5 separate regions of the Homo sapiens genome follow, and regions 2, 3, 4 and 5 are each linked to region 1. Evidence: fine-mapped expression QTL. A gene starts in region 1. Each other region holds a variant in brackets. All regions are shown on one strand. Distances are between the middles of the regions.

What was found. PIP is the estimated chance that this variant, and not a neighbour inherited with it, causes the effect. A credible set is the group of variants that fine-mapping cannot tell apart.
Region 2: its variant is the best candidate, but not a certain one, in a credible set for the expression of CARS1 in whole blood (TOPMed, PIP 0.84).
Region 3: its variant is the best candidate, but not a certain one, in a credible set for the expression of CARS1 in nasal epithelium (TOPMed, PIP 0.70).
Region 4: its variant is the best candidate, but not a certain one, in a credible set for the expression of CARS1 in lung (TOPMed, PIP 0.52).
Region 5: its variant is the best candidate, but not a certain one, in a credible set for the expression of CARS1 in naive CD8 T cells (Schmiedel 2018, PIP 0.64).

Annotation. Positions count from the first base shown.
Region 1 is chr11:3,053,793-3,060,161 of GRCh38, forward strand. It overlaps CARS1 (cysteinyl-tRNA synthetase 1), which reads right to left and starts at 3,631. Exons shown (of 23, transcript NM_001014437.3): 1 at 3,551-3,631. The coding sequence starts at 3,575. LOC124902615 (a long non-coding RNA gene) reads left to right here and starts at 4,832. Exons shown (of 2, transcript XR_007062555.1): 1 at 4,832-5,226. RefSeq lists an enhancer at 3,285-3,817.
Region 2 is chr11:3,181,113-3,187,481 of GRCh38, forward strand. No RefSeq gene overlaps it. Among named protein-coding and RNA genes, the nearest start is that of OSBPL5, 19 kb to the left of the region's middle. RefSeq lists an enhancer at 1,361-1,861. The variant C/T (reference allele first, on the strand shown) is at 2,593.
Region 3 is chr11:2,936,112-2,942,480 of GRCh38, forward strand. No RefSeq gene overlaps it. Among named protein-coding and RNA genes, the nearest start is that of PHLDA2, 9.9 kb to the left of the region's middle. RefSeq lists a silencer at 3,998-4,174. The variant C/T (reference allele first, on the strand shown) is at 3,200.
Region 4 is chr11:3,007,427-3,013,795 of GRCh38, forward strand. CARS1 (cysteinyl-tRNA synthetase 1) reads right to left here. Exons shown (of 23, transcript NM_001014437.3): 18 at 4,769-4,850. Among named protein-coding and RNA genes, the nearest start is that of NAP1L4, 18 kb to the left of the region's middle. The variant A/G (reference allele first, on the strand shown) is at 4,057.
Region 5 is chr11:3,021,657-3,028,025 of GRCh38, forward strand. It overlaps CARS1 (cysteinyl-tRNA synthetase 1), which reads right to left. Exons shown (of 23, transcript NM_001014437.3): 10 at 5,020-5,141. Among named protein-coding and RNA genes, the nearest start is that of CARS1-AS1, 4.6 kb to the right of the region's middle. The variant A/G (reference allele first, on the strand shown) is at 3,345.

The DNA of each region.
Region 1 (6,369 bases):
CTCCTAATAAGTGCCCCGGTTTGGTGGGGGTCTGCACCCCTCACTCACCCTGACCCTTTGCCCTCTGACCCTGCTACTTCAAAGGTCCCACCAGGGTCCTCATCTTGTGGGTGTCCAGGCAACATCTCACCCTGCAGGTTACTCCCTTTCTGCAAATGTTCCCCTGGTCCCACCCTCTACAGCTGCTCCTCTTGGGTCCTTCCCAGTGATCCACTCCCTGCCCAAGAAGTGTTCAGAAAGGGGACCGGAAAAAGCCCCCAGACATGAATCGTGGGGAGGAGAGAGGGGCATGCACCCCTGCTCTCACCAACTAGGAGCCAACACTGCCCACTCCCAGAGACCAGCGCCTCCTCCCACAGGTGAGGGCTTCCCCTCCCACTCCCCGTCCTGATCACCAGCCCCGGAGGTCCAGCTGCAACTCGTTCACAAAGGTGGCCCCCAGGCATCCTCTCTCACCCCCAAGAACAGCATCTCCATCTTCCTCCTTACTGGGAGGGAGGTTATTCATTATTAGGGGCATCCAACATCCCTCACAATGAGCCTGTGGGGTGATCAGACAGCAATATTGCCACCCAGAGCACCCACACTGGAAATGGCTTAATCTCCACCCCAAGGGTACTGCCTAAGGCTCTTCAAATACCCGGAAACATGGTACCTGAGTTCATAGAGGAGCAAACATTTCATGTGGCTCTGGGGAAAACATCGAAGGGCATCAGCTTTATTCTCGTCTGCCTTAACTCACTGGGTTGAGCTATTGTGAGTCTGAAGAGAATCATCAAAGGCAGCACAGCACAGCAGTTAAGGTCCCTATTGAGTCAGGCTGCCCAGGTTGGGAGCCTGGCTGTGCCTCTGGCTAGTCGTGATGGTGGACAGATTGCTTGACTTCTCTGAACCTCAGGATTCTCATCTGTACAAGATGCCGGCAGGATCTTCCTCAAAGGGGTTCCCCCAAGGGTGGCAGGAGATAACAGATGCAAAGCATTTAGAGCAGTGCCTGGCACAGACTCATGCTGAAAAAATGCTGGCTGTGTTATTATGAAGACCCTTGAATTAAACTGTATAAAAATTAAACTATAAGTCTGACCTGATGAGCAGCCGACCAAGTGGTATCCCAAGTCTGTGCGGAAAGGCCCTGAGGTAGGCTCCATCTACCCCAGAAACCTCAGAAATGAAACTCATCCTTCTGAAATAATCAGGCTCTTGGACAGGCACCAAGCCTATGCACCTTCAAGACCGCAAAGGAAAAGCTGTACACCCAGTGAGATCAGGAAAGAGAAATAGACCTTCTGAGTCAACTTAGGGAAGATGGTACAAAAATGATGGCCTCCTTGAAAAATCTGGGAAGATGGTCACTGAAAGCATTTACGATTGGATTTTTTTTTTTTTGAGACGGAGTCTCGCTCTGTCGCCCAGGCTGGAGTGCAGTGGCGCAATCTCGACTCACTGCAAGCTCCGCCTCCTGGGTTCACATCATTCTCCGGCCTCAGCCTCCGAGTAGTCAGGCGCCCGCCACCGCGCCCGGCTAATTTTTTTTTTATTTTTAGTAGAGACAGGGTTTCACCATGGTCTCGATCTCCTGACCTCGTGATCTGCCTGCCTCGGCCTCCCAAAGTGCTGGGATTACAGGTGTGAGCCACTGCGCCTGGCCTACGATTGGATTTTATTTCCTGTTCTCATCTTTGAGAGTGTGTGTGTGATGGGAGGAGGCGATAGTAAAGGCAGGTGGGCCATGCCCTGGGGCAGAAGAACACTGGCTGGAGATGCTGTGCGCAGGCTGAGGACTGGGCAATCTGCCTGCTGCCCTGACAGCCCGGAGAGGGCAATCCCAACCTATATGGCAAGCTCCAAAAAGAAGGCAATTCTTACAAGGCTCTGAAAACCTAAAATTCTAAAGCTATTTTTAAAAACAAGATACAAAACACTACTAATACGTCATTTACGTTCACAAATGAACAAAAACACATTTTTAGTTTGAAAACAAACAGGCCCTAACTTTCAGCACAGACACAGCACTTAATTGAGTGCCAGGCACTGTTCTACGTCCTTCCCATCTATTAATTCATTTACACTCCATGCTCCAAGGTAGGAGCCATTACGCATGGTTTGCTGTGGGGCGGGAGGCAGAGTTGGAACCCTGGCCCTTCCAGGGTGGTTCCAGAGTTGGGGCTGTTAACTATGATGCTGTTTTACAGGAATCTGGGTGACTTCTGAGGGCCGCTTGGCTCTGGGACGGGTGGAGATGGTGCTGGAATCCAGGCACACAGGTAGGGTGGTAGGCGGCGTGCCTGGAAGGTGACCACCTCCTGCCACTTGGCACAAGAGTGTAGCCCTGTCATCTGGGTGTCCCCATGCCGCCAGATTACTCGGGTTGTCATAACTACCTATCTATAACCCAATAAACCCTCAGGGGCAAAGGGCACCACCAGATGCTAAGGAAATCTTGGTACGATCTAAACTGAGGGTGGGGGCTGGAGGTGTCTTACAAGAACTTGCATCTAATTTTTGCCAGCCAAAAGAATTAAAAACTAGATACTGAGAATGTTTCCTTTGGAAAGGCTGCTCCAGACTGTTAGGAATCTGGGCTTTCTGATTCAGTCTCTTGCCTTTCCAGCACCTAAAATCTTGCTGGAGGGACAGTGAGAGAAGAACCCACTGGTCTCTCAAGGTCTACCCGCTGGTGACATGAGTGACTGGGGGAGCTGACACAGCTGTGTCCCTGGGGAACCTCCCGGGTTGGCAATAAAATGGGGCAGTAATGCTCTGACAATCAGCTTGCAGTGGACTGCCTGCGGAACTGGAGATGAAAGCCTTCGTAAAGCCCCAAGCCCTTTTACTGTGTGTACGCGTACCCCTGGCGTCCTCTGCCCCATTTCCCTAAATACCAACCTCAGGTGCCCTCCGCCCACCTCCCGGAAGCTGCCAGGTCTGGGCAGAAAACCAAAACAACCCTTGGGCCTTTGTCTCCCCCCTAAAGGCCAGCTGGGGCAAGAGGGAGCGAGGGCCCGCCCAGGCACCGGCTGGGGAAAGGCTGTTTGATGTAGGGCCACCTCCCGGGGTGAGGATGCAAGGGGACCTCGGCAGGAACCAAGTGAGGAAACTGAGGCTGGGTGGTCTGGGCAGCGCCCCGCTCGGGCTCGGGTCCCCGCGGGGTCTGTGCTCCAGCCACGGGTCTGGCAGACCCTCACGCAGGAGTCCCAGGGGTCCCAGTGGCCGTCCCTCGGAGCCGGGCACCCGTTGTCCTTCGGATCCTAGGACGTGCCACCCCTCGAACCTCAGGACCCGCCGTCCCTCAGACCCCGGGCACTGACACCCCTCAGACCCCGAGCACCCCCGCCCCTCGGACCCAAGGACGTGCCGTCCCTCAGACCCCGCGCACTGACACCCCTCAGACCTCGGGCACTGCCGCCCCTCAGACCACGGACACAGCTGCCCCTCAGAACCCATGCACCCGGGCCCCTCAGACATAAGGACTCGCTGCCCTTCGAGCCGAGCACCCAGCGCCCAGTCAGGCCCCCAGCCGCCCTCAGCCTGGCCCGGCCGCGCCGCTCACCCTGCTGCCCGGAGGAATCTGCCATGGCTGGGAATCCCGGACCCGCAGCTGCGGCTACAGACACTTCCTAGAATCTGATGCAACCGCCGCCCCGGAAGTCGCGCCCCACGCCGGGCCCGTCTTCCGGGACACGCCCGGTCGCTAGGCAACTACCAGGGGCTCCGGATGTCGCCGGCCCGGAGCATGCTGGGAGCTGTAGTTCAACCCAATGGCGACCCGCGCTCCGGAGCATCGCGCGGCCAAGCGTTCAGTGGCCGTGCTGGGAGTAGTCAGCCCAGCCGCGGGGAGACAAGCACTAAAGACTGAGCGTCCTGTAATAGGTGTTTAAGTCATGATTGCGCTAAGCGCCGTGGGGACCAGGCCCAGCCTGGAGGTCAGAGGCGGCCTCGGGACAGGGTGTGCTGGCGAGACGGGATGGTTCCCAGGAGGCCGACCTGGAGCAGGGCCTGGGGATGGGCGGGAAGAGCGCTCCAGGCCTAGGGACCGCCCTGCCAATGACCCTGCGGAAAGCAAGCCACTATGAAGTGTTGCGTGAACAGGCTTCTCCATCTCCTTCTCAGACCCCATTCTGGAGCCATCCCCAACCCCCTTAGGGCTCCTGCCTTCTGTGTGCATGATGTCACCTCCCAAGGATATCCCACCCAAGGTTCGTGCACCCATCCAAAATGAGAGGAAATGCTATTTAAGAAACAGAATTTTAATATGTCAAGAAAAATTATTAGCCAGGATTAGTGGCTCATGCCTGTAATCCCAGCACCTTGAAAGGACAAGGCAGGAGGATCATTTGAGTCCAGGAGTTTGAAGCTGCAGTGAGCTACGACTGTGCCACTGCATTCCAGCCTAGGCGACAGAGTGAGACCCTTTCTCAAAAAATAAAAAGTAAAAAATCTTCTAGTTACTTTTTGGAACCTCATGTCTAATTTCATAATAAATTCTAAGGCCGGGCACGGTGGCTCACACCTGTAATCCCAGCACTTTGGGAGGCCGAGGTGGGCGGATTATGAGGGCAAGAGATCGAGACCATCCTGGCCAACATGGTGAAACCCTGTCTCTGCTAAAAATGCAAAAATTAGCTGGACATGGTGGCGCTTGCCTGTAGTCCCAGCTACTCAGGAGGCTGAGGCAGGAGAATCGCTTGAACCAGGGAGGTGGAGGTTGCAATGAGCCGAGATTGCGCCATTGCACTCCAGCCTGGCAACAGAGTGAGACTCCGTCTCAAATAAATAAATAAATAAATAAATAAATAAAATAATAAATAAATAAATTCTAAATTCTACTGGTGGCTGGAAAAAAAAAAGAAGAAAGAGTTTGTTTACATTTCTGCAAAGATCCTGTAGCATGTGCTGTAACTTGCCCAGGATGTGGGAGGCTCTGTGAGACCCCAACTAATCCCAAAGGAGGGACCAAGTCCAGGACTTAGGGGACGAAGTTCTGGCCAGGTCCTACCATGACTCTCACAGTGCCTGTTTCTCACTCATCACTCTAGGACCATGAGTCACCCAAGCCCAGCTCGGCCACATGCCTTCCTGGGAGAAGGAACCGGAGGCGCCCAGGAGAGTCAGAAGCCTCTTAGAGATAAACATTCGGCTAAGGCTTGCCCTGCCCTTCCTTTCTTGCACTAAGAAAGCCTCCTGACATCAGGTCAGGCAAGCCAGAGTTTGGCTGTAAGACCTGGGGTGAGTTTAACTTCTCTGAGCTTCCAGATGTCTTGTTTTTAAATCTGCAAAGTGGGGCCGGGCACTGTGGCTCACGCCTGTAATCCCAGCACTTTGGGAGACCAAGGCGGCCAGGTCATTTGAGGTCAGGAGTGCAAAACCAGCCTGGCCAACATAGTGAAACTTCATCTCTACTGGGAAAAAAAAAAAGGGTCTGCAGAGCGGAACTGGGAAATGATCACCTGCTCAGGTGGCCGAGCTGTGTCTAAGAGTGCTGCAGTGTCTAGCAGCAGTGGGTCCCGCCTCCCCAGTCCTGCTGCGTCCCAGCCCTACCACCAGGGCAAGGACACTCTCTGAACCTCAGCATCCCCCTGGTGTTGTAGTTCTTTGGGACAGCACATTGGGTTACAGGTTGTTATGGGTTGCATTGTGTCTCTCCCAAAAGATGTGGAAATCCTATAACCACCAGGACCTGTGAATGTGACCTTATTTGGAAATAGGGTCTTTGCAGATGATAAAGTCATAAGATGAGGTCATTAGGGGGGACGTTAATCCAGTATAACTGATATCCTTGTAAAAAGGGAAAATTTCAGCTGGGCATGGTGGCTCACACCTGTAATCCCAGCTCTCTGGGAGGCTGAAGAGGGAGGATGGCTTGAGCCCCAGAGTTTCAGGTTGCAGTGAGCTATGATTGTGCCACTGCATGCCAGCCTGGGTGCAGAGTGAGACCCTGTCTCTAAAATAAATAAATGAATAAATAAATACACATATATAAATTAATTTAAAAAAATTTTTTGAGACGGAGTTTCACTCTTGTTGCCCAGGCTAGAATGCAATGGTGCCATCTTGGCTCACCGCAACCTCAGTGTCCCAGGTTCAAGAGATTCTCCTGCCTCAGCCTCCCGAATAGGTGGGATTACAGGCATGTGCCACCATGCCCGGCTAATTTTGTATTTTTAGTAGAGACGGGTTTCTCCATGTTGGCCAGGCTGGTCTCGAATTCCCGACCTCAGATGATCCGCCCGCCTCGGCCTCCCAAAGTGCTGGGATTACAGGCGTGAGCCACCATGCCCAGCCAATTAATTAAAATGTTTAAGTGGAGGAAATTTGGACACTGACAAGCAGGGAGGGTGCCATGTTAAGATAAAGGCAGAAACTGGGGCG
Region 2 (6,369 bases), 130 kb after region 1:
AGGACCCAAGGGGGCTGCTGATGTATGTCCTGGGGTCCAAAGGCTGGCAACCCTGGATTTCTCATGTCCAAGGCAGCAGAAGAAGAGTCTGTCCCAGCTCTCAGAGAAAGACTGGTTTGCTTTCTGCCTCTGTATTTATTCTTTCTAGGCCCTGGTTGATTGGATGGTGCTTGCCAACACCGAGGGCTGATCTTCCCCCGAGTCCACTCAGGCTCACACATGAGTGAGTGAAGTATTATCAACTCTAAAATAAGGATGATATCTAATAACAGGATGGAAACACGCTTGTATGATGCCAGCACAAAAGATTTGTCAGGGCAGACGTTCATTCCTGCTATTCTCAAGTTTTGTGATTAAGCAAGTGCATTTAGATGCTGCTTAGCTGAGAATGTTTCCGTCTCCTCTGGAAACACCCTCACAGATACAACTAAACTACTGTTTTACCAGGTTTCTGGGTACCTCTCAGCCCAGTCAAGTTGATACCTGAAATTAGGTCCACACAGGTCTACCTCTTGCCACTTGGCACCCACACTCATCTCTTTAGATCATACTTAACTTCCAAATAAAGACTTAACAAGGTCGTAGTTCCGCCCAACACGGTGCAACTGTCACAGACAGGCACCACAGACAGACAGACAGGCACCAATCCTTTCCCCAGGACTCAGCTTTCAGGATTTTGGCATTCAGATTTTAATCTGACGTGAGGGATTTTAGGTTTAGGGATTTCAGTATTGTGGATTATGCAGTTCAGGATTGTGTCTTTGAGGATTATGATTGACACCAAATACAACTATACCTCAAAAAAGGCATATGAATGGAATGCTGAAAAAAGGATCCAGGCCCCCTCAAAAAAGGCATATGAATGGAATGGCGAAAAAAGGATCCAGGCCCGAGCGCGGCTCATGCTCAAATCCTGTCTAATGCACAAACCACATTTGCTTGCTTTCGAATCGTTGCTTATTACTTATATGTGGGGGGGGAAAAGAAAGCAGCAGGCATTGAAAACACTCCAGAGGTTCCAGAGGTGGCTGTTTCCAGAGACACTTCTGGTCCTGACATGCTGGGGTCTCGTCACCAGGGCTGTGCTGGGGGCCCCAAGCTCTCTGAAGGTGTGCTTTCTGGGTCATGAGGTGGGGGCCCCACAGATATTGGTCATCTGTGGAGGGTAGCAGAGCAGCCCCAGGGCGCCATCGATGCTGGCAGGGGAGGACTGCCCGAGGGCCTCTACAGGCCAGGCCAGGGTGCAGCCACTTCAAAATCCCTGAAAGCAAATGTGGAACCTTGAGTGAGTGTCCGGTTGGAAAATGACCACAGCCTTGTCCTGAGCTGGGTGAGGGTGGGTCTGTCACCGCAGGGCTGAGAGGCACCTCTGTGTGCTCCTTGCCAGAGGAGCTTGGCAGCAAGTGTGGGGTGGCCCTCCTAGACAGCAGCAGCTCTGCCTTGGGGTCTGGCCCATTCCCAGACACAAGTGCATGCAGACAAAGGCCAGGGGTCAGGTCCTGCCCAGTCATTGGTCTCCTGAGCTGTTGGGTGCCGGGTGTGTCCTGTGATAGGACAGCAGCAGAGCCCAGCTGCTCCACCTCGTACTCTGGCCAAAGATGAAGGGGCACACAGTGGCTCTGCAGGGCTGTGGAGCAGTGCTACAAGCCTTGGCTATGGCGGGGCAGGGGACAGTCACCCTCTGTCATAGTCCTTTCTGTGTTGCTATTACAGAATACCTTAGGCTGGGTAATTTATAGAGAAAAGAGGTTGGCTCATGGTTCTGGTGGCTGGGATGATCAAGATTGGGCAACTGTGTCTGGTGAGGGCCTCAGCAGCTTCCACTCATGGTGCAAAATGGAAAGGGGCAGGCATGGGCAAGGAGGCCACGTGGTGAGAGAAAGCAAGAGTGCCAGACTCCCTCTTTTTTTTTTTTTACTTTTAAATTATTATTTTTAGAAATAGGGTCTCACTCTGTTGCCCAGGCGGGAGTACAGTGGCACTGTCATAGCTCACTGCAGCTTTGACTTCCTGGGCTCAAGTGGTCCTCCTGCCTCAACCTCCTCAGTCACTGGGACCACAGGTGTGGCCACCACACCTGGCTAATTTAAAAAAAGTGTTTTTTTTTTTGAGATGGAGTCTTGCTGTGTTGCTTACACTGGTCTGGTCTGGAACTCCTGGCCTCAAGTGATCCTCCCACCTCAGCCTCCTGAAATCCTGGGATTACAACTAGACTCTTTAAGAACCTACTCTCCAGGGAATGAATCATTTCCTGAAGAACTCACTCTCTCCCTTGGGAGGGGTTAATCCATTCATGAGGGGTCTGCCCCCATATCCCAAACGCTTTCCACTAGGCCCTTCTCCTATCACTGCCACACTGGGGACCCAATTTCAAGACGAGTTTTGGTGGAGACAGACCACATCCAAACCACCCTCTCTGACCCTCTCCTGGTGCCAAGCTCTCTGGCCAGGGAGTAAAGGGGCCCCCACTCTTGCACTTGCCAAGGGTGGAGACAAGGGTAGGCTGGCAAGAGCAGTTTAGCGAGGACAGAGTGAGGGAAGGGGTAATTATTTCCTACCTTGGAAACTCTGTGTCCCACCCCAGCTGCACCA[C/T]GGCCGGGCCAGGCCGGGCCTGCAGCTTCTGGTCCTTGCCTTGACCTCCTCAGGATGGGAGGTGGACTCCAGAGAAGGCCTTGCCCAGTGCCCATCCCCGTCCTTCTTCCTTCCTAGTGGACACCACGTCCTCTTCAAAGTCCACACCCTCTGTGGGACAGAATTGTAACTCCACCTCCCAACAACTCACCATGGTTCTCTTCATTTCTATTCAAGGACCTATTTTGTGGAAAATCTTAGCCCATTCAGAACCTATAAGCATTTGGGATTACTTTTCCAATTCTGGCCTCTTGCAACCCAAACAAGGTCAAGAACGGCTCCAACCAATAGAACTTTCTGAAGCGATGACAGTGTCCCTCAAGCTGCCTGGCTCGCTGTAGGAGGAACCAGCTGCACACAGCTCTTTAGCTCTTAAAATGGGGCTGGTGCCACCAAGGAACCGAGTTTTAATTAATGTTGTCAGTTTAAGTAGCCCTGTGTGGCCAGTGGCTACACTATGGACAGTGCAGATCTAGACTCTTAAAAGTGGTTTATCTGGCCAGGTACGGTGGCTCATGCCTGTTATCCCAGCACTTTGGGAGGCCGAGGTGGGTGAATTGCTTGAGGCCGGGAGTTTGAGACCAGCCTGGTCAACATGGTGAAACCCTGTCTCTATTAAAAATACAAAAATTAGTTGGGCAAGGTGGTGCATGCTTGTAATCCCAGCTACTCAGGAGGCTGAGGCTTGAGAATTGCTTGAACCTGGGAGGCAGAGGTTGCAGTGAGCCAAGATTGCACCACTGCACTCCAGCCTGGGCGACAGAGGAAGACTCCATCTCAGAAAAAAAAAAAAAGTGGTTTATCTGGGGTTGGGATTGGTGGCTCACACCTGTAGTCCCTACAACTAGAGACCAACCTGGGCAACATAGTGAGACCTCATCTGTACAATAAAATAAAAAAAAATTAGCTGGATGTACTGGTGCATGCCTCTAGTCCCAGCTACTTTGGAGGCAGAGACAGGAGGATTGCTTTAGTCCAGGAATTTGAGGCTGCAGTAAGCTATGATTGCACCAGTGCACTCCAGCCTGGGTGACAGAGGGAGACCTATTTCTTAGATTTAAAATAAAGTGGTTGATCTGCTTTTTTTTGAGTGACTTAAACAACAAGTATTTGTCTTTCACAATTCTGGAGGCTGGAAAGTCCAAGATTAAGGTGTGTACTCGTCTGTTCTCACATTGCTATAAAGAACTACCTGAGACTGGGTAATTTATAAAAGAAAAGAGGTTTGATTGACTCACCGTTCCGCAGGCTGTACAGGAAGCATGGCTGGGAGGCCTCAGGAAACTTACAATCGTGGCGGAAGGCGAAGGGGAAGGAGGCAAGTCTTACATGGCTGGAGCAGGAGGAAGAGAGGCCAGAGGGAGGAGCTACACACTTTTAAACAACCAGGTCTCATGAGTACTCATCACTATCACGAGAACAGCAAGCGGGAAGTCCACCCCCGCGGTCCAATCACCTCCCCCCAGCCTCCTCCTCCTCCAACATTGGGGATTACAGTTCCACATAAGATTTGGGCAGGGCCACAAATCCAAACCATGTCAAGGTACAAGCAGGTTTGGTGTCTGATGAGAGCGTGGTTGCTGGTCTGCAGATGGTCACCATTTTGCTGTATCCTCACCTGGCAGAAGCAGAGAGAAAGCTGGCTCTCTGGTGTCCCTTCTCATAAGGACACTTATGGGGGAGGACCCCTCCCTCACGGCTTCACCTAGATGTAATTCACTCCCATAGGCCTCGCTTCCAAATAGCATCACGTTCCGGGGGAGGCTTCCAACCTACAAATGTTGCAGGGACACACATTCTACCCATAGCAGTAATGATGCTGTATCAAATGGGGAGCTGATGGTAAACTAGCCCAAAGTGATTCTCCAGTCTCTCCCTTCCCCTACCATAGTGACAGAGAAGGCCTCATGGTCTAAATAACATGGCTAAAAGTTGGTTGGTAGAACCTTCCTCAACATGGCCTCTGAGTGACTAGCAGAGTCTTCCAAAAACCTCAATAGACATGCAGTGTGAGTTAGAAATAAACTTTTGGGTTCAATCACTGAGATTTGGGGATAGTCGTTCTCTTTTCCTTTCTTTCATTTTTTTTTAATACTTCCCAACTGTATTTATTGTGAAAGAGAGGGTTCTTATTTTTTGGGAAACACATTCTGATTTTATTTTATTTTATTTTTATTTTACTTTGAGTTCTGGGATACACGTGCTGAACGTGCAGGTTTGTTATATATGTATACAGTGCCATGGTGGTTTGCTGCACCTATCAACCCGTCATCTAGGCTTTAAGCCCCTGCATGCATTAGGTATTTGTCCTAATGCTCTCCCCGCCCCCTTTCCCTTTTCCCCCAAACCCCTTTCCTTGTCTTTTTAAAACAAGTTTCCATTTTTTCTCTTAGATGTAAGGAGAACACGTGCAGGTTTGTTACAAGGGAATACTGTGTGGTGCTGAGGTTTTGGTAAGTGAACTTGACAGGAGCCTCTGGCAGGTTCCTGCCCCAAGAAATCAGGGCTTCCGAGACACCACCAGCAGGACACCTGGCAGAGCCTCCAGGACCCCTGGCAGAACCCCTGACAGTTACATCTCTTTCCCGAGAGAGGGCACCTCTGTGTGCTCCTTGCCAGAGGAGCTTGGCAGCAAGTGTGGGGTGGCCCTCTTGACAGCAGCAGCTCTGGCTTGGGGTCTGGCCCATTCCCAGACACAAGTGCATGCAGACAAAGGCCAGGGGTCAGGTGGATGACTGATCCCGTCACCCAGGTAGTGAACATAGCACCCAACAGGAACTTTTTCAGCCCTTGCCCCTCCCACCCTCCCTCCTTTTGGAGTCACCGGTGTCTGTTGTTCCCATATTTATGTCCATGTGAACCCAAGATTTAGCTCCCATGGATAAGTGAGAACGTGTGATATTTGGCTTTCTGTTTCCGTATTAGTTAGCTTAGGATAATGGCCTCCAGCTGCATCCATGTTGCTGCAACAGACATGATTTCATTTTTTGTGGCTGCGTAGTATTCCGTGGTGTATGTGTACCATGTTTCCTTTGCATCCACCCTGATGGGCACCTGGGTTGCTTCCACGTCTTTGCTCTCGTGAACAGTTGCTGTGACGGGTATGCAGGTGCAGGTGTGTTTTTGGCAGAATGTTTATTTTTCTTTGGATATGTGCCCAGTGATGAGTGGGATTGCTGGGTTGAATGGTCATTCTGTTTTAAGTTCTTAGAGAAATCTCCAAACTGCTTTCCACAGTGGCTGAACGAACTTACACTCCCACCAATAGTGCATAACATAAGCATTCCCTTTTCTCTGCAGCCTTGCCAGCATCTGTGGTTTTTTTGACTTTTTAATAATAGTTTATCTGCTTTTCTGCTGAGACCTCTCTCCCTTTAGACATGCATGGGTGATTAGCAGGTGGAAAGCGTCTGGGGTAAAAAGAAATTGCCCATTAAGATGTTGAGACAACCCTAACTGATCTACAGGTTCAATGCAATTCCTATCAAAGTCCAAATGATTTTTTTTTTTTTTTGCGGAAATAGAAAAGCCTATCCTAGAATTTGTATGGAATCTCATGGGACCTAAATAGCCAAAACAATCTTGAAAAAGGACAAAGCTGGAGGACTCACAGGCCCTGATTTCAAAAGCTTGTGCAAAGCTACAGTCGTCAACACACTGGGACTGGCATAAAGACAGACACCGAGACCAACCACGTAGAATAGGAGCCCAGAAAGAAACCTTTGCATACGCGGGCAA
Region 3 (6,369 bases), 120 kb before region 1:
AGTGGCGTGATCTTGGCTCACTGCAACCTCCGCCTCCCAGGCTCAAGCAATCCTCTCGCCTCAGCCTCCTGAGTAGCTGGGACCACAGGTGTGTACCTCCATACCCAGCTAATTTTTTGTATTTTTGTAGAGACAGGGTTTCACCGTGTTGCCCATGCTGGTCCTGAACTCCTGAGCTCAAGCAATCCACCCATGTCAGCCTCCCAAAGTGCTGAGATTACAGACATGAGCCACTGAGCCTGGCCTCTTTTTGTTTTATTATTATTATAAATTTTTGAGACAGGGTCTTGCTCTGTCACCCAGACTGGAGTGCAGTGGTGCAATAATGGCTCACTGCAGCCTTGACCTCCTGAGGTTGTGATCCTCCCACCTCAGCCTTCTGAGTAGCTGGGACTACAAGGCACATGCCACCATGCCTGGCTACTTTGTATATTTTTTGTAGAGATGGGGTCTCACTGTGTTTCCCAAGCTGGTCTTGAACTCCTGGGCTCAGGCAATCCGCCTGCCTCATCCTCCCAAAGTATTGGAATTACAGGTGTGAGCCACTGTGCCTGGCCTCATCCTTTTTAAAAAAGCATTTACATTTCCTTTAACAATTGATTTTTGTTTGTTTGTTTTTGAGACGGAGTCCCACTCTGTCATCCAGGCTAGAGTGCAGTGGCACGTTCTTGGCTCTCTGCAACCTCCGCCTCCTGGGTTCAAGTGATTCTCCTGCCTCAGCCCCCTGAGTAGCTGGGACTACAGGCATGTGGCACCACGCCCGGCTAATTTTTTTGTATTTTTAGTAAAGATGGGGTTTCACCATGTTGTCCAGGCTGGTCTTGAACTCCTGCCCTCAGGTGATCCACTTGCCTTGGCCTCCCAAAGTGGTGGGATTACAGGAGTGAGCCACAGCACCCAACCTCCTTTAATAATTAAATATAGGATTGCCCTGTGATCCAACAATTCCACTTCTCATTCACATGCTCACAAGAACTAAAAGTTAGAGTCTCTCCTAGAGATCCATGCACACCCATATTCCCAGCAGCATGCCAAAAGGTAGAAGCCACCAAGTATCCACTGACAATGGGCACACACGATGTGGTCCACACACACACTGAATAGTCACTGCCTTAAAATGGAAGGGAAATCTGGTCGGGCACGTGGCTCACACCTGTAATCCCAGCACTTTGGGAGGCCAAGGCAGGTGGATCACCTGAAAAATTGGCCAGGCGTGGTGATGCCTGCCTGTAATCCCAGCTACTTGGAAGGCTGAGGCAGGAGAATCGCTTGAACCCAGGAGGCGGAGGTTGCGGTGAGCCAAGATTGCACCATTGCACACCAGCCTGGGCAACAAGAGTGAAACTCCATCTCAAAAAAAAAAAAAAAAAAAAGGAAGGGAATTCTAACACAAGCTACAGCACGGATGGACTCTGAGGACACTATGCTGAGTGAAATAAGCCAGACACAAAAAGACAAGTACTGAATGATTCCACATGTACCAGGTCCCAAGAGTCGTCAGATTCAGAGACAGAAGGTAGGAGGGCAGGTGCCAGGAGCTGGAGAGGACAATGGGGAGTTTAATAGGGACACAGTTTCCATTTGGGGAGATGAGAAATCATGGAGGCAGATGCTGATGGCGGCTGCATGACAGTGTGAATATGCTTAGTGTGAATATACTCAGTGTGAATACGCTCAGTGTGAATATGCTGAGTATGCTCGGTGTGAATATGCTCAGTGTGAATATGCTCAGTGTGAATATGCTCGGTGTGAATACGCTCGGTGTGAATACGCTCGGTGTGAATATGCTGTGTGAAAATGCTCGGTGTGAATACGCTTGGTGTGAATACGCTTGTAATATGCTCGGTGTGAATATGCTTTGTGTGAATATGCTTTGTGTGAAAATGCTTAGTGTGAATACGCTCAGTGTGAATACGCTCGGTGTGAATATGCTCGGTGTGAATATGCTCGGTGTGGTGTGAATATGCTTGTAATATGCTCGGTGTGAATATGCTTTGTGTGAATATGCTTTGTGTGAAAATGCTTAGTGTGAATACGCTTAGTGTGAATACGCTCGGTGTGAATATGCTCGGTGTGAATATGCTCGGTGTGAATACGCTTAGTGTGAATACGCTCGGTGTGAATATGCTCGGTGTGAATATGCTCGGTGTGGTGTGAATATGCTTGTAATATGCTCGGTGTGAATATGCTCAGTGTGAAAATGCTTAGTGTGAATACGCTTAGTGTGAATATGCTTGGTGTGAATATGCTCGGTGTGAATATGCTTGGTGTGAATATGCTTGTAATATGCTCGGTGTGAATATGCTTTGTGTGAATATGCTGTGAATATGCTCAGTGTGAAAATGCTTAGTGTGAATACGCTTAGTGTGAATACGCTTAGTGTGAATATGCTTAGTGTGAATACGCTTAGTGTGAATATGCTCGGTGTGAATATGCTTAGTGTGAATACGCTGTGAATACGCTTAGTGTGAATATGCTCGGTGTGAATATGCTCGGTGTGAATATGCTCGGTGTGGTGTGAATATGCTTGTAATATGCTCGGTGTAAATATGCTCAGTGTGAAAATGCTTAGTGTGAATACGCTTAGTGTGAATATGCTTGGTGTGAATATGCTCGGTGTGAATATGCTTGGTGTGAATATGCTTGTAATATGCTCGGTGTGAATATGCTTTGTGTGAATATGCTTTGTGTGAATATGCTCAGTGTGAAAATGCTTAGTGTGAATACGCTTAGTGTGAATATGCTCGGTGTGAATATGCTCGGTGTGAATATGCTTAGTGTGAATACGCTGTGAATACGCTTAGTGTGAATATGCTGTGTGAATATGCTTAGTGTAACTATGCTTAGTGGCACTGAACTGTGCACTTTAAAAAATGGTTAAGAATGTAACTTGTGATGTACCCTTTACCAGTTTTAAAAATGCATTTACATATGAATATCCATGCAGGCGGGGGTATGAGCTTGTGTCTCTTCCTCTGTCTGGGCCATCTTCCAGGAACCCCCCACCCCAGCCCTCATTATCTGGAATCCTCCATGTCTCAGCCACCCCTTGTGATGGTTGGGCTTGGGCTGGGTCCCTGTTGCTGTCATCTTACATGGCACTGCCTTCCTGCACACCAGACATGGCACTGCTGGGCTAGCAAGGCCCTCAGATGTGTGGTAACTGCCAAAATGGCCTGCCAGTGGGGCTGTTCCTATT[C/T]ACCCTTTCCCCCAAGGGCTGCAATGCCAATCTCCCCATGGCTAGGCCAATGGTGGGCACTCTGTACTTAAAAAAAAAAGTCAATCTGGGCAATAGCTCACGCCTGTAATCCAACACTTTGGGAGGTCAAGGTGAGTGGATCACTTGGGTTCAGGAGTTTGAGACCAGCCTGGCCCACATGGTGAAACCCTGTCTCTACTAAGAATAGAAAAAATTACCCTAGTGCAGTGGCATGCACCTGTAATCCCAGCTACTCGGGAGGCTGGGGCAGAAGAATTGCTTCACCCTGGGAGGTAGAGGTTGCAGTGAGCTGAGAAAGTGTCACTGCACTCCAGCCTGGGCCATAGAGTGAGACCCTGTCTCAGGAAAAACCAAACAACCAAACAAACGAACAAAACAACAACAACAACAACAACAAAACCCCACAATCTGGTGGTCAAAAACTGAGGTCTTCACACACATTTCTCTATCCCTGGGGTGGGGGCAGCCATCTCTCTGGGTGTCTGTGGCCTTTGGCGTGGCTGTCTTTTCCCCTCTTCATGTGCTTTGGTCTGTTTGAAAGACCCCTTTCATGGACTGAATGGTGGCCCCCAATAAGACATATCCATGTTCTACTCCCTGAAACCCACGAATGTTACCTTTGATGGCAAATGGGTGAACATGACCTTAGTGGCTAGGGTGTGATATAGGAAAGGCCCCTGAGAGCAGGAGCTTCCCCTGGACTACCCAGGTGGGCCTCACAAGGGAGAACTATGGAGAAGCAGGCATAGGGGTAGGAGGCCACGTGAGACAGAGGCAGAAATCGGAAGGAAGTGGCTGCAAGCCAAGGAATGCCTGGAGCCCCCAGATGACGAGGAAGGGTCCCCACATAAGGTCTGGTGTTCTGGTCCTTGGGGAGGGCAGCCCCTGCTGAAAAGGGGCAGGTTGAGACCCAGGGACCACTTCAGGCCCTCGCTGGCGGCCCCCAGGCTGGGGGCAGCAGACTCTAGCAACTCTGGCCAGTGCCTGCACCTGAGGCCCCATCTCCAGGCGTTCCCTCTTGTCCTCCCAGCCCTGCACCCGCCTTGCTCAGTGAGGCACTGTCCTCCCTCCTCGGACTGGCTTCCAGCCAGGCAGGCACTGGTGAGGGCCGGTGTGGGCAGCCCTGCCATGCCCAGGGTCTGGGTTCTGAGGAGGTGAAGCTTCTCCCCATGTCCCAGATACAGAAACTGAGACCTAGGGAGATTTGGAAACTTGGTGGACACCACAGACTTCTTGAGGAGCTCGACAAGGGTGATCTGTGTGGGTCCGCCCTGAGTGGGGTCCTGGACACAGCTGTAGCTGCCCCGTTTCTCCTGGGCTGGGCTGGGCTGGGCCAGGCTGTTGGGTTGTCATGGTAAGTAACATCCGGCTGCCACCCTCAGAGAGCCATGAGTCAGCATGGCCAGGATGGGCTAGTGATTGGCACCTTGGGGACAGCCTAGCAGGCGGGGCCTCCCTCAGGCACACCAAGGTGACCTGGCCTCGGCAAGAGGCGTCCAGGCCTCACCCTGCAAGAGCTGGGCCCTGGCTTCTGTCCTGAGACTCGGGTCTGCATCTCTTAAATGGGGAATGTCCCAGGCGCATGAGGTGCCTGGAAACCCACACCAAATTCAGCGCATCAGAAGCTCAGCCAGGGCCAGCCCGAGGAGGCGTCCTTCCAGGAGGCCCTGCTGTTGGGGGCCACTGCTTGCCAGTGTCTCCTGGTGGGTGGGGTCCAAACAGCTGGGCCTGGGGTCCCTTGGGCCCCCCACTCCACATGGGGATGCTCCCTGGGGCGGGCTGGGGAGGAGGTGCCTGCTCCAGCAGAAGGAACCTGGGAAGGCACCTGTTCTGAGGGTTTTGGGGCAGAGGCCGAAGTCCATGCCAGGCTGTGGCCAGGCTGGCCTGGCTGGCAGGGAACCACAGGCTTCTGCACACAGCAACCCCTTCTGCAGGCCCAGGGCTCCCTCAGGGCACTGCAGCTGGAGTTGGCTGAGTCTGGGACGGTCACTTCTCCCACCGCTGCCCCTGGCTGTTCCTCTGTTGCTCACCAGTTGCCCAGCCCTGAGCCCTGACTCAGAGCCAGGCAAGCCAAGGACCCAGCAGGGGCAGGTCAGAGGTCAGTAATATCAAGGTGTGCCTGGATGAGCCAGGCAGAGGCCAGGGGCTCCACCTACCCACCTGGCTGGCTGGTGGAGCCAGCTGGCTGCCCCCTACCCACCCCACCCCTGCCTCCCACCTCAGGGGCAAGCTTGGATCCTGGCAGCTCATGCTGACTCAGCCTGCCCAGCGATGGGGCTGGGGGCAGCCTAGGGCATTTTGAGAGTGGGACAAGATGGGTGGGGTGGCAGGAAGCCCTGGACCTGGGACTTGGGGAAGGGGGCTCTGGCCCCATGGGTGGCCCTTGGGCCTGGGGAGGTTTGCTGGGCAGCAGGACAGGAGCAGAGTGGGATGTCGGCTTGGTCCCAGCTCCACATAAACGGGAGTCATGAGCCTAGAGAGCAGACTGGCCAGGTAGGCTGACCTGGGGTACACACCACCCGCGGACCCACACGCCAGGCAGCTGTGGACAAGGGTCCCAGGTGACCCTGCTGGGGAAAGCAGCAGCCATCAGGTTCTAGGGAGCCATAGCTCCTGACTCAAGGGAAAAAACAGAATTTTAAGTGGAATCACCCTGTTTTGGGGACTTCTGAAAACTGAGCTTCAGGCCAGGCACGGTGGCTCACACGTGTAATCCCAGCACTTTGGGAGGCCAAGGTGGGTAGTTCACCTGAGGTCAGGAGTTCGAGACCAGCCTGGCCAACATGGTGAAACCCCATCTCTACTAAAAATACAAAAATTAGCCAGGTGCAGTGGTGCATGCCTGTCATCCCAACTACTTGGGAGACTGGGCAGGAGAATCGCTTGAACCTGGGAGGTGGAGATTGCAGTGAGCCGAGATGGTGTCACTGCACTCCAGGCTGGGCAATGGAGCGAGTCTCCGTCTCAAAAAAAAAAACAACGCTGAGCTTCATTGAGGACTAACTTATATACAACCAAATATACCCATTTTTGATGTAACTCAATGAATTCTGACAGACGTATACACCTGTGTAACCACTTCCATCCCTCTAAAGCGTTCCTTGGTCAGTCCCCCCACCCCAGATCCCTCCCAGGCAGTCACCGGCACT
Region 4 (6,369 bases), 46 kb before region 1:
GACTTGGTTCCCAAATGCACACGGGACTGCGATGGGGGTCCTGACCGGCACCCAGGAGAGCTGAGTCCCAGGACCACCAAGGAGCTCGAGCTCTGTGAGAATCAGCCCTCCCAGGGCTGAAGCGCACGCAGCTGTAAAGGCGGGGCTGAGCGGTGGGGGTGGACCGCAGGTTGCTTCCCAAGACTGTGCTCACCTCTGCCTCTGACTGGGGACCTGACCCAGCTGGGAGGGTGAAAGGAGGCATGACAGGGAGGGCGACTGTGACCTCCATCACATGGGGAGGGAGCTTCGCTTGGAAACCCATGTGTCTGTGGCTGACTTCAGAGCGCAGCAGTGCAGACTTGCCCGGCATCCCACGGTTCTCCTAGTGGGCTCCTCACGCAGTCTCTAGCAGGCGCCCCCTCTGTGTCTCTGCTCTGCCCGAGTTTTCCCGTTCCCAGCCCACGCACAACGCCCAGGTAGAGAACAGGACATAAGAAGTTTTGGGTGTTACAGGGTAAATGGGATGCCAACCTATCTCAGAAAGACTCCAGAGTATCAGGTGATGTGACAGCATCTCCTAGACTACATCAACAGGACAGATGCTTGCTGCTCTCCAAGTGACAACTTTCTGCTCTGAAATCTGACCTTGGGTTTGCTGGAATCACCACACCCTTTAGTTTTCTTCTGGCCCCTCAGCTTGCTGCGCCCAACTGTGCTAGGCGGGCAGGTGCCCTGCCCCCCAGCCTGCTGGGACCCCCACCATCCCACCCCATCCTCCTGCCTGCCCTGCCTTTGGGCAGCACTGACCATGCACATGCTGCCATTCTCGTCTGTCCTTTTCCTGCTGTGTCCTCATAACTGAGACCCCTAGAGCTCCTTGCTGGGCACCCCACACCTTCATTCACTGCTAGATAAAATATTCACATATCCGGGCAGGCACGGTGGCTCATGACTGTAATCCCAGCACTTTTGGAGGCTGAGGCGGGTGGATCACAAGGTCAGGAGATCGAGACCATCCTGGCCAACATGGTGAAACCCCATCTCTACTAAAAATACAAAAACTATCTGGGTGTGGTGGCATGTGCCTGTAATCCCAGCTACTTGGGACGCTGAGGCAGAAGAATCGCTTGAACCAGGGAGTCGGAGGTTGCAGTGGGCCAAGATGACACCACTGCACTCCAGCCTAGCGACAGGGCAAGACTCCATCTCAAAAAAAAAAAAAAAAAATTGCATATCCTTGGGCTTCAAGGCCGCGCTCATAAGCACAGCCACTTTGGGCAGCTTCCGGAGTTTCAACCTCCCCAGGCAGAGACCTAGGGGAACAATGGCCTTTATATTTGTCTGCAGTATCATTCCTGGGAACAGGCCCTCCTCAGCCACCTGAGGAGCAGCTGACTGGGGCATGAGCTGAGGTAGGTGCCTGCCCTTCACTCTTTGAAAGCCACCCCTGGATAGCACCCTCATTAGAAGGAAGGCAAGCCAGCACCTGTGGTCACTGTCACGGGTGTCATGGGAGGCCACAAGGCCAGCACCCCAGCCCACCCGCCATGGGTGATCATCAGAGCAGGCACCAAGAAAGCCTCCCGGGCCACACTCCCTGGGGGAAAGGGACACACGCCGTACCCCTCAGGCCCACACCGACCTCTGGGTCTGGATTCTGAGGAGCTGAGGAAGAAGCCTCTGTGGCTTCTGTTAGCAGAGCTGGGGCAGAGGAGCAGACAATGACATCATCATCAGGGATTTACTGAAGAGAAATGTGGGCTACAAAGATAACGCAAAGGTGATGAGAATTCTTCCATGGAAGAATAGACAGATCAGGGCCCATCCATCCATGGAATATGATTTGGCCATTAAAAAGGCAGGAGGTCCTGACACAGGCTGCAACATGGATAGACCTGAGGACACCGTGATCAGCGAAATAAGCCAGACACAGGACAAACACTGTGTGACTCCACTCATGTAGGGTCCCTGGAGTAGTAAAATCCAAAGAGACAGAAGTAGAGGGTGAGCACCAGGGGCTGAGGGAGGGGATGTGGAGTTGCTGTTCCATGGGGACAGAGTTCCAGTTTGGGAAAAGGGAAGAGTTCTGGAGATGGACGGTGGCGGCTGCACAACACTGTAAATGTCCCTAATGGCACTGAGCTGTGTATTTTAACATAATGAAAACAAAACCGTGGCGATGGGGAAATGGCATCATCTCCCCAGTGCAGAGGGCCCTGGCCCAGCCCCTGGCTTTCTCACTTCAGTGCCTCTCTCCTGGTCAAACCCTGAACCCATTGCCCTCCTTGCCAGGCCTGTGCTCTCTAGCTGACTGGACCATGGGGGTATTTCCAGGGGAAACAGTTTCTTTTTCGTCTGTCTGTGGAGCATCTGGCCTGGGCCAAGCAGATCCCAGCTGATCTGAGGGCCACCCCTGAGCTTGTTATACACTCACTTTCTCTTTGGCCAGCCATGAGATGTTAACAGTGAATAACAAAACAGTCACTATTTGCTGCTGCTGGGGAGACAGGGTGATTGCACCAGAGCCACCTCTAACACGCTGCCCCGTCGGAAGGTCTGAGGCCCCTGGATCCCCAGGGTCTCTGGCTCACAAGGCACATATGGGATGATGTACAGGGTAGGGATCACCACCATCTTAACCTGGGGCCACATCACCCATCTACCTGCTCCAAGCCACAAAACAAAAGTGAAAAGCAAACAGAAAGCAAAACCGAACTACTTCCAATGCTGGCTGGCTGGTGCCACTCTCCAGGCCTGAGCAAGTCCTGTCCTGGTCAGTGCCACCGAGCGGGAGCTTGTGCCTGGCCAGTCCCCCTTTAGCGCCCTCCCGGGGCTGTGGCATGCCAGGGAAGCCAAGGCCACGTGCACAGTCTTGTATGACCCCAGGGAGCTGGGGCCCGGGCTCGGCCTTCGATGTCCCCCAGAAGGCAGGTGGAAATGCCCAGGCGACCTCCAGGAATGGTCTTCCCAAGCCCACGACCCCAGCGATGCCGCTAAGTTAGTGCTGCCAAGATTGCTGGAGAGCCCTGCGCTGGTCCTGAATAGGCTGGTCCAGGCTTGGTTCAGTTTGATTCCAGTGCTTTGAAATGCTGAGGGCATCAGGTGTTGGAAAGGGGCGATGGTGCTTATGTGGTCAGGGCAAGTGCGCCCACCGCTGCCTGTTAGGGGCTCAGTCAGGCCCAGGCCCCTCTCCAGAGCACTTGTGGCAGCCCAGCAGCCCAGCAGCCCGGCCAGCCTCTCCTCTCACCCAGTGTCCTGCACTCTCCTGCAGCCTGTGGAGCCCCGAGCTCCCGAAACTCTTTCCTGCCCTCCTGCCTCCTGCTCCACTGTCCCCTGCCCGAAACAGGCCCAGATTCGGCTCCTCCGCCTCTCGGCCCCTCCACCCACCCAGGCTTCCTGATCCTTCCTCAAGGTGCAGCTTCTCCTAGAGGCTTGCTGGGTCTCTGTCTGCTCTGTCTTCAGCATGCCCTGCCTGGATGCTGCCCCACTGTGACCCTCCATAATGGGCTCTGCACAGATGGGGACCAGGTGGATCCTAGGTCAGACTTCCCACCACACAGAGGCCCCCTGGGGAGGGAGAATTAGCACAGCAGGTGATGGAGTAGCACTCGAGGTCAGTGTGACCCGGCCAGGGCTCTCCTTTCCTCTTTTGGAGGATCATGGTGGTAAATGAGGCAATGTGCAGAAAGCAGTGGGCAGGGCCCAGCACATCCTAAGTCCTCAGTGTGTGTTCCCAGCTGTGCTGTTACTCACCAATTCAGAACCACTCACAGGAAGAAGCAAAGGCCTGCCTGATGCTGCTTTTTGCTGTGTTTAACACTTTCTTAAAACTGGCAGTCAAAACGAATGCTCAGATTCAGCACTTTCTAAGTCTTAAACCACACACATCTCAGAAATTTCAAAAGATGAAGGAATGGCCAGGCGCGGTGGCTCACGCCTGTACTCCCAGCACTTTGGGAGGCCGAGGCGGGTGGATCACGAGGTCAGGAGATCGAGACCATCCTGGCCAACACGGTGAAACCCCATCTCTGCTAAAAAAAAAAAAAATACAAAAAATTAGCCGGGCGCGGTGGC[A/G]GGCGCCTGTAGTCCCAGCTACTCAGGAGGCTGAGGCAGAAGAATGGCGTGAACCCGGGAGGCGGAGCTTGCAGTGAGCCGAGATCGCGCCACTGCACTCCAGCCTGGGAGACAGAGTGAGACTCCATCTCAAACAAACAAACAAACAAAAAGATGAAGGAATGGCTGCTTATGGACAGTGAGGGGCCACTGTGTGAACCCCAAGTTCAAGCATTCATCTGGCATGCCTGAGCAGAAAAGGGAACCCTGGAAGCTGCAGCTCGGCTCCACTCGGCAGCAGGAACGAGCCACACCTCAGCGCACCCAGCCTACCAGGTCACCAGGAACAAAAATAAGCCCCAGTGTGAGCCAAATGGCAGGTGGTGACTGGGCTGGTCAGAGGACCCACCATTCTGCCTCGGCTCAGAGAAGGAGAGGCAAATCAACCCTGGCCCATCATATCACATCCTCGGTCCCCACTGCCCACTCAGCTGCACTCACTCGAGGATTCTGCCCTGCAGGGACATGTGGGGCTGTGGTGACTGGAGCGTGTGGTACTAATGCACCTGGTGGGTCCAGGCCCGGGATGCCGTTCAACACCCTGTGGTGCACGGGGCAGCCTTCCCAGAGGATGATCCGGCCTGAACGCCATAGTGCCTCGGGGGAGACGCCCGGTCCGGGGAGCCCAGTGAGGGGAGTGGCTCCCACACTCTTTCCAGCAACTGGTCCTCACCTTTTTGCTCTCGGGCAATCTTCCGCACTCCTTCTCGGAATTCTGATAACACCTGAAGGTAGGGCATGACTGTGGCCTCGAGCTGCGGAAAGAACAGTTTTGGTTCACTGAGAGCTGCTCACACTCCCATATTCATAACAGAATAATAGCTCAGTGGCCGCGACACAGGGCAGGGACTGGCATGGGCAGTGCTGCTGTGCACACTACAGCTGTGACCGGCATCCCAGAGCCTGGACGCTCTCGTCCCTGACACACAGTCCCTGCTAGGTGTGCGAGTCACACAGACTCTCAGGCCAGAGAGCATGAAGTGAGCTTCCTTTCTACTGCAGCAGGTGGGTCTGCCGCCGCTCTGCCCAGCTGCTGACAGGCCCTGCTTTCCTCAGGTCAGACACGCTGCTGTGAAACAGCTTGTCTTTATGGTTTCAGAGGGGCCAGCTCTGGGAGGGACTATTTCCTAAGGAGCCCAAGGACATCACTCCCCAGGCTGGGGCCTTACCTATGCTGAGGCTGGCGGCTCCCGGGCCGTGCTTTCGTCTGATCTGTGGTCACACATACACTTGTTTAAGATGAATGATCTCCATTAAGCACCTACTATCTACATGCACATTAGCAGCTACACGTAGATTCACCACCCACAGTAACACTGGGGAGGTGGCCACAGGATAGAAAAACCTTTCTACTATATTTCCCTTTTTTTTTTTTTTTTTTTTTTTTAAGACGGAATCTTGCTCTGTTGCCAGGCTGGAGTGCAATGGTGTGATCTCGGCTCACTGCAACCTCAGCCTCCCAGGTTCAAGCGATTCACCTGCCTCAGCCTCCCGAGTAGCTGGGATTACAGGCAAGCGCCACCACGCCTGGCTAATTTTTGTATTTTCAGTAGAGATGAGGTTTCACCTTGTTGGCCAGGATGGTCTCAATCTCCTAACCTTGTGATCTGCCCGCCTTGGCCTCCCAAAGCATTTCCCCTTTTTTTTTTTGAGATGGAGTTTTGCTCTCATTGCCCAGACTGGCATGCAATGGCGATCTCGGCTCACCGCAACCTCCACCTTCCAGGTTCAAGCGATTCTCCTGCCTCAGCCTCCCGCGTAGCTGGGATTACAGGCATGCGCCACTACGCCCAGCTAATTTTGTATTTTTAGTAGAGACAGGGTTTCTCCATGTTGGTCAGGCTGGTCTCGAACTCCCGACCTCAGGTGATTCACCCACCTCAGCCTCCCAAAGTGCTGGGATTACAGGCGTGAGCCACCATGCTGTGCTAGCATTTCTCTTTTTCTAATAGGACAGAAAAGGTTTTAGGCTTTTGAGCAAGGTTGCTCCCTGCCCCTTAGCTGATTCAGCAGCTCAGTAACCAAAATAAAAACATTAGCAAGTGCTGGCTGGGCGCGGTGACTCACAACTGTAATCCCAGCACTTTGGGAGGGCGAAGTGGGTGGATCATGAGGTCAGGAGTTCAAGACTAGCCTGGCCAACATAGTGAAACCCCCGTCTCTACTAAAATACAAAAAAAAATTAGCCGGGCATGGTGGTGCATGCCTGTAGTCCCAGCTACTCAGGAGGCTGAGGCAGGAGAATCACTTGAACTCGGGAGGCAGAGGGTGCAG
Region 5 (6,369 bases), 32 kb before region 1:
TTAACCTAGGAATTACTACTGTTACCATTTTGGTATACTGATTCCCAGATTAAAAAACAAACACACAAAAACACAAAAAACCTCTGCAAGCAAAATCCAGATCTATCCACCAACACGGAAGGCCGCTGTCCTGGCTTCCTTCTACCTCCGCACTGTTCTGCCACTGACAATTCCGCAAAAGCACAATGTGATATGGCCCATGACATTCGCTTTTAGATGCTCTTTGATAGAAAATATACATTCACGTTTTCAACTTTTCATTATTATGAACTTACTCATGAAAGTTTATATCTGATTTTTTAAAAATACGCTTTGAAAAAATTGATAACAGAGAACACAGGACCCTCCCCACAAACACCCTATCCTTCAGCAAACATCACACTGCAACTGCCCTCATAGGGTTAATGAGAATTCCAAGGCAGGCTATAGGCAGAATGATGAGGCCGGTCACTGGCCAGGTGCAGTGCACGTCCATCCGCTTCCCTGCAGCTCTAACTGAGAGTCACATAGCACGCTGACCACCTGCTCCACCACTGTTCCTAGCGATAGAATCTCTAACCCTGGACCTTTTTACCAAGAACTGCTTAAGGTATTTTTTGGATCCTGAATTCCAGCAGGACAGCTGTTGCCAACTGGTCTGAAGACCTGCACCAAGGAACTGACTCGTCGCAGAAATGTGGTTTACCTCCCTGTCCCATGACTTCGCCCCTCACTTCCCCAGCAACCGGCAATCCCCATCACCTGTCCAGAGCAATTAAAAACCCCTCCCCAAATCTCAGGGAGGCGGATCTGAGGTTTCCTCCCATCTCCATTTGTCCACCATACAATTACTACGCTTCTTCTACGGCAACCCCTGGTATCCCGGTATACTGACTCGCTGTGCATTGGGCAACAGACCTATTATGGTTACAACACAATGTCTTTCAAGTTTTCCTTCTTGGTTTCATTTCCTGTCTCTCTCCCCAGAGGCAGAGTGAGTGTTTCTAGCTTTGACCCTACAAGCATGTTCATACCAGCACAACAGGGTCCTGTTCTCTCCCACTGGGGGAGCTTCCTCCCTGCACTAGGCCTTCCTGCCACGTGCCTTCCCGAGTGGTCTGCATGGCCCATCTGCCTCTGGTGGGTCATCTTACTTGGCGGAGTGAGGAGCTGTCATCATCTAGGACCACTTGGGCCCCAGCATCACCCCTCCCCTTTTCCTCTACCATTAGAGTCCCCATGGCGAGGAGCACATGACTGCACAGAGCTAAGGCTACACTCCTTATGACTCCCCATGGTGGGGGGAGGTTGCGGGGGTGGTCATGTGCCCACGTCTGATCACTGACTGTGGAGGGGTGGAAATCCATGTCCCTCTTTGGTCCTGCATATTGGCTGTTAGATTCTACTCCTGTTTCCTGGAACTTAAACCAATGCTGAAGTCATTCTGGAAGAAAATGGGCCCAAGAATAAATGGTATTTAAGAAAAAGACCCTAGATGGGGCCAGATAGCAAAATTCATCATAAAGTGGTGAGTCAGTGTGCTCTAGCTGCCTCCAGAACATTCCTTCACCACGTGACCTGAGGGCACTGCTCCACTTACCACTCCCACCTTTCCCATGTGCTGCCAGTTCCCTCCCGGCATCTAAGTGTCAAATGCAGTGCGAGTTGTTCACGGCTTCCTCTAAGGACTTTAAGAAATGCTCTACTATATCCATAGTTACATTCCATTTTTGTCTTGTTATTCAAACATACATACATACATACATACATTCAAACACACACACAGGATCTTGCTGTCAGCCAGGCTGGAGTGCAACGGTGTAATCACAGCTCACTACAGCCTCGACCTCCCTGGCTCAAGCAACCCTCTTACCTCAGCCTTCTGAGTAACTGGGACTACAGGTGCATGCTACCACACTCAGCTAATTTTTAAAATTTTTGTAGAGATGCGGTCTCACTACATTGCCCACGATGGTCTTGAATTCCTGGCCTCAAGCGATCCTCCTGCCTCGGCCTCCCAAAGTGCTGAATTATAGGCATGAGCTATAATTCAGCCCTAATATGTTTTTCAATCTTCTACTTTTATTAATCAAACTTGCTAAGGGTTCTTCTATATTATTTTTTGAGAAGAATCAGCTTTTGGCTTTTACAATTGTTTCTGTTTCTTTAATCTCTGATTTTACTTTATTTCCTCCTATTTCTTTCTACTTCTTCTTGTTCCTTTCCCAGCTTTTTGACTGACTGCTTAGCTCACTTATTTCCTTTTTTTTTGTTTGAGATGGACTCTTGCTCTGTCACCCAGGTTGGAGTGCAGTGGCACGCTCTCAGCTCACTGCAACCTCCGCCTCCAGGGTTCAAGCGATTCTTCTGCCTCAGCCTCCCGAGTAGCTGGGACTACAGGCATGCGCCACCACACCCGGCTAATTTTTGTATTTTTAGTAGAGATGGGGTTTCACCACATTGGCCAGGCTGGTCTCGAACTCCTGACCTCGTGATCCGCCTGCCTTGGCCTCCCAAAGTGCTGGGATTACAGGCGTGAGCCACTGCACCCGGCACCTCACTTATTTTCCATCTTTGTTTTTTAATAACTACATTTAAAAACATCAGTTTCCTCTAATTGGTGCTTTAGGGGCATTCTCCAGATTTGGTGTGTGGCACCTTTGCTGCTGTTCTGCTTAAACACCCCTGATTTCCCACTGTGGTTTTCTTTCCTAGGAGTTATCCAGGAGCATGATTTCAACCCCCCAGACAAGTTTGTACATTTTAGACGTCCGTCCTGTCAGTGTTGGTATCTTTTTTATTTTAAAAAAAAAATTTTTTTAATGTCTTTGAGACAGAGTCTTGCTCTGTTGCCCAGGCTGGAGTGCAATGGCACAATCAGGGCTCACTGCAGCCTTGACTTCTTGGGCTGAAGTGATCCTCCTGCATCAGCCTCTTAAGTAGCTGGGACTATAGGCACGTGCCACCACACCCAGCTCATTTTTAAATTTTTTGTAGAAAGGGGGTCTCCCTATGTTGCCCAGGTTGGTCTGGAACTCCTGGGCTCAAGCGATCCTCCTGCCTCGGCCTCCCAAAGTGCTGGGATTACAGGTGTGGGTCGCCATGTCTGGCCAAGTGTTGTTATCTAATACAATCGCTCCATGGTGACAGAATGAGGGCTCCTTGACAGAATGAGGGTTCCTTGAAAACGGTTCTTTGAGATTTGTGGAAATCTTTCTGTGGCCTGGCATATGTTTCTGTGTTCTTGGAAGGAAAGGATGTTCTTTAATTCCTGAGTGCAAAGTTCCCAGCTCTCAAACCAAGCCTGTTAACTGTATTTCAAACCTTTCATATCCGTATTAATTCTTGGCCTACTTGATCTGTCA[A/G]CTCCTGGGAAGTGCATGAAACGTGGGCATGTCCACTCTGGTTCTAGGGTAGTGAAGCCTTCTGGTCCAGAGGCCCAGGCTGCATCCTCTCAGAGCTGAGGCGCTTCATCATCACAAACCCGCCCCTCTACTCCCACAAACCCGGAGCCTGAAATGCCATGGGTCTGATATTTATGTGTCAACCTGGCTATCTCTATCTTTCTTCAGTCTGTGTTGTCTGGTTTTATTTTATTATATATTTTTTTGAGACAGAGTCTCATTCTGTCACCCAGGCTGGAGTGCAGTGGCACAATCTTGGCTCACTATAACCTCTGCCTCCTGGGTTCAAGTGATTCTCATGCCTCAGCCTCCTGAGTAGCTGGGATTACAGGCAAGCACCACCACACCTGGCTAATTTGTGTATTTTTAGTAGAGATGGGGTTTCGCCATGTTGGCCAGGCTGGTCTCGAACTCCCAACCTCAGGTGATCCACCCACCTCGGCCTCCAAAAGTGCTGGGATTATAGGCGTGAGCCACCGCACCTTTATTTTAGGTTCTGATATTTCTTTAGAATAGAGCCTAAAATTAGATAAAAGTATGAACATTTTTATGGCCAAATTGTCTTCCAGAAACACTAGGACAGGCGGGGTGGGGGTGCAGAACGTGCCCTGGCACATTGCGGGAATCCCCACTCTGCAGGGAGGCTTCCAACCTTGCCTCTTGTGGATGTGTCCCCAGATTCACTTAAGGGATAAACATGAAGAAAACACCAACGAAAGGGTTCCCAATATAATTCTGCCTGGTCTAGAAAAAGTCTGATATCTGTGTTTGAAGCATTTGGATCCAGATGGGCGCACAGGCTGTTGTCAAATATGCATCACTCGGCACACATCCCAGCACCCCACAATCCCCCTAAACCTCACATGCTCAGCCAGCAAACACCAGCCCTGTGAATCCAGGCCCCAGGGGCCACTATGTTTCTCAAGACAGCACTGCGTTTACTGTCTTTTGTTTCTTAAAAAATAACACACCATAAAAAAATGACATCTTGTCTTTTACAGCAACATGGATGGAACTGGAAGACATTCTGTTAAGTGAAATAAACCAGGCAGAGAAAGACAAATATCACATGTCCTCTCTCTTATGTGGGAGCTAAAAAACGGTGGACCTCAAGGAGGTGCAGCATAGAACAGTGGTCACCAGAAGCTGAGAAGAGTCAGGTCAGGGGCAGTGAGTGGAGAGAGGTTGGTTTCTAGGCACAAACACACAGACAGAAAGAATAGGTTCTTGTGGTCACTAGCACAGTAGGGTGACTATAGTTACCAAAACATTTGTTGTATATTTCAACATAGCCAGAAGATCTGGAACATTCCCAATGCAAAGAAAAGGTAAACGTCTAAGGTGACGAGCATCCTAACTACCCCGATCATCACACACGGTGTGCATGTATTAAGACATCACATGTTCCCCATAAATTGCATAATTATTATATATCCATTAAAAAAACACATGTCATGGTCTTAGAGCTGCACAATGTTGAGTGCAGAAAACTCCTAAAATTCCTTCAGGTGAAAAAGCACTGTTCCCAAGAGTCTGAGGGGTGGGCTCAGCGCAGCCCCCGTGGCCTGCAAAGTCAACACAACCCAGGCTGGGCCAGGAGGGAGAGCCCACATGCTCTCAGGCATGCCCTCCTCACCTTCCCCTTCTTGAAGGGCTTTCTGATCTCCAACGGCCTCAGGCACCAGCTTCCCATAGGAGTGCTTCTCGCTAGAAGCAAACTTCGCTGTATCAAAGTAGACAGACCCATTGGAGACATAGCTGGAAAACAGAAAAGGAATTGGGTGGGTGCATCTAACAGACCCGAAAGTGTGTCAGCAGGATGACAGTAACAAAATAAAGCAGGGCTATAAAAGTGCGAAATCTGTGGCCTATCTACTCTCTGTGGTGGCCACTGAAAACCGTATCAGCTGTTTGGACTGAGTGGGACACCAGGGCCCATCCCGCTGCGGAGGCAGCCTGCCTGCCCTGGGCAGCTCGTCCCTCTGCCTGGCGTCCTGTGACCCATGCAGCTCCCACCCTGCCTTGCTCAGGGCTGCTGCCGTCCTCATTCTTGTGTGGCCTCACCTTTCCCTGAATGTCCACACTCTACCCATTAGCTTAGCTGAGGCTCTTGGCCTCCAAGAAGCACTCTAGATTACTCCAGTCTGGAATGACCTGTCCTCTCTGAGCTTCGGCTTGCCCATGCCTCTCGGCTTGGCACAGGCTCTTATGCTGCCCCACAGTAGTTTGTGTGAAGTGGGGAGAGAAGCAGCGCTACTGCTTAAGAGTCTGCCCCGTTCCTGGCACTGTCACAACCTCTTGTTTCTCTTTCATCCAGCCTGTGTGGTTCCTGTGGGAGGGAAGCAATCTGAGGCTGGACACAGTGGGTCTCTGGGAGCAGGCGCACGGTACAGTGCTGAGCACTACTGTGGGCGGCAAGCCACCCAGGTGCCGAGGCAAGAGACCGAGGGCACGAGCTGTTCCAGTATAATAAAATATAAAATAAGAATAGTTATACCAGATATAGATCTTAGATATGATTATATATGAATATCATTAATCATTAGTTTGTAGCAATTACTCTTTATTCCAATATTATAATAATCCTCGCTCTATAATCATAATCTAGGAAAAACCAGGCCATACAGAGATAGCAGCTGAGGGGACATAGTGAGGAGTGACCAGAAGACAAGAGTGTGAACCTCCTGTTATGCCCGGACACGGCCACCAGAAGGGTTCCTTGGTCTAGTGGTAACGCCAGCGTCTGGGAGGATGCCCGTTGCCAAGCGGACTGTGGTCTAGCGGTAGCGTAAGTGTCAAGGAAAAACACCCGCTACTTAGCAGACCGGGAAAGGGAGTCTCCCTTGCCCCGCGGGAGTCTGGAGAAGACTCTGCTCCTCCACCTCTTGTGGAGGGCCTGACATGAGTCAGGCTCGCCCGCAGTTATCCGGAGGCCTAACCGTCTCCCTGTGATGCTGTGCTTCAGCGGTCACGCTCCTAGTCCTCC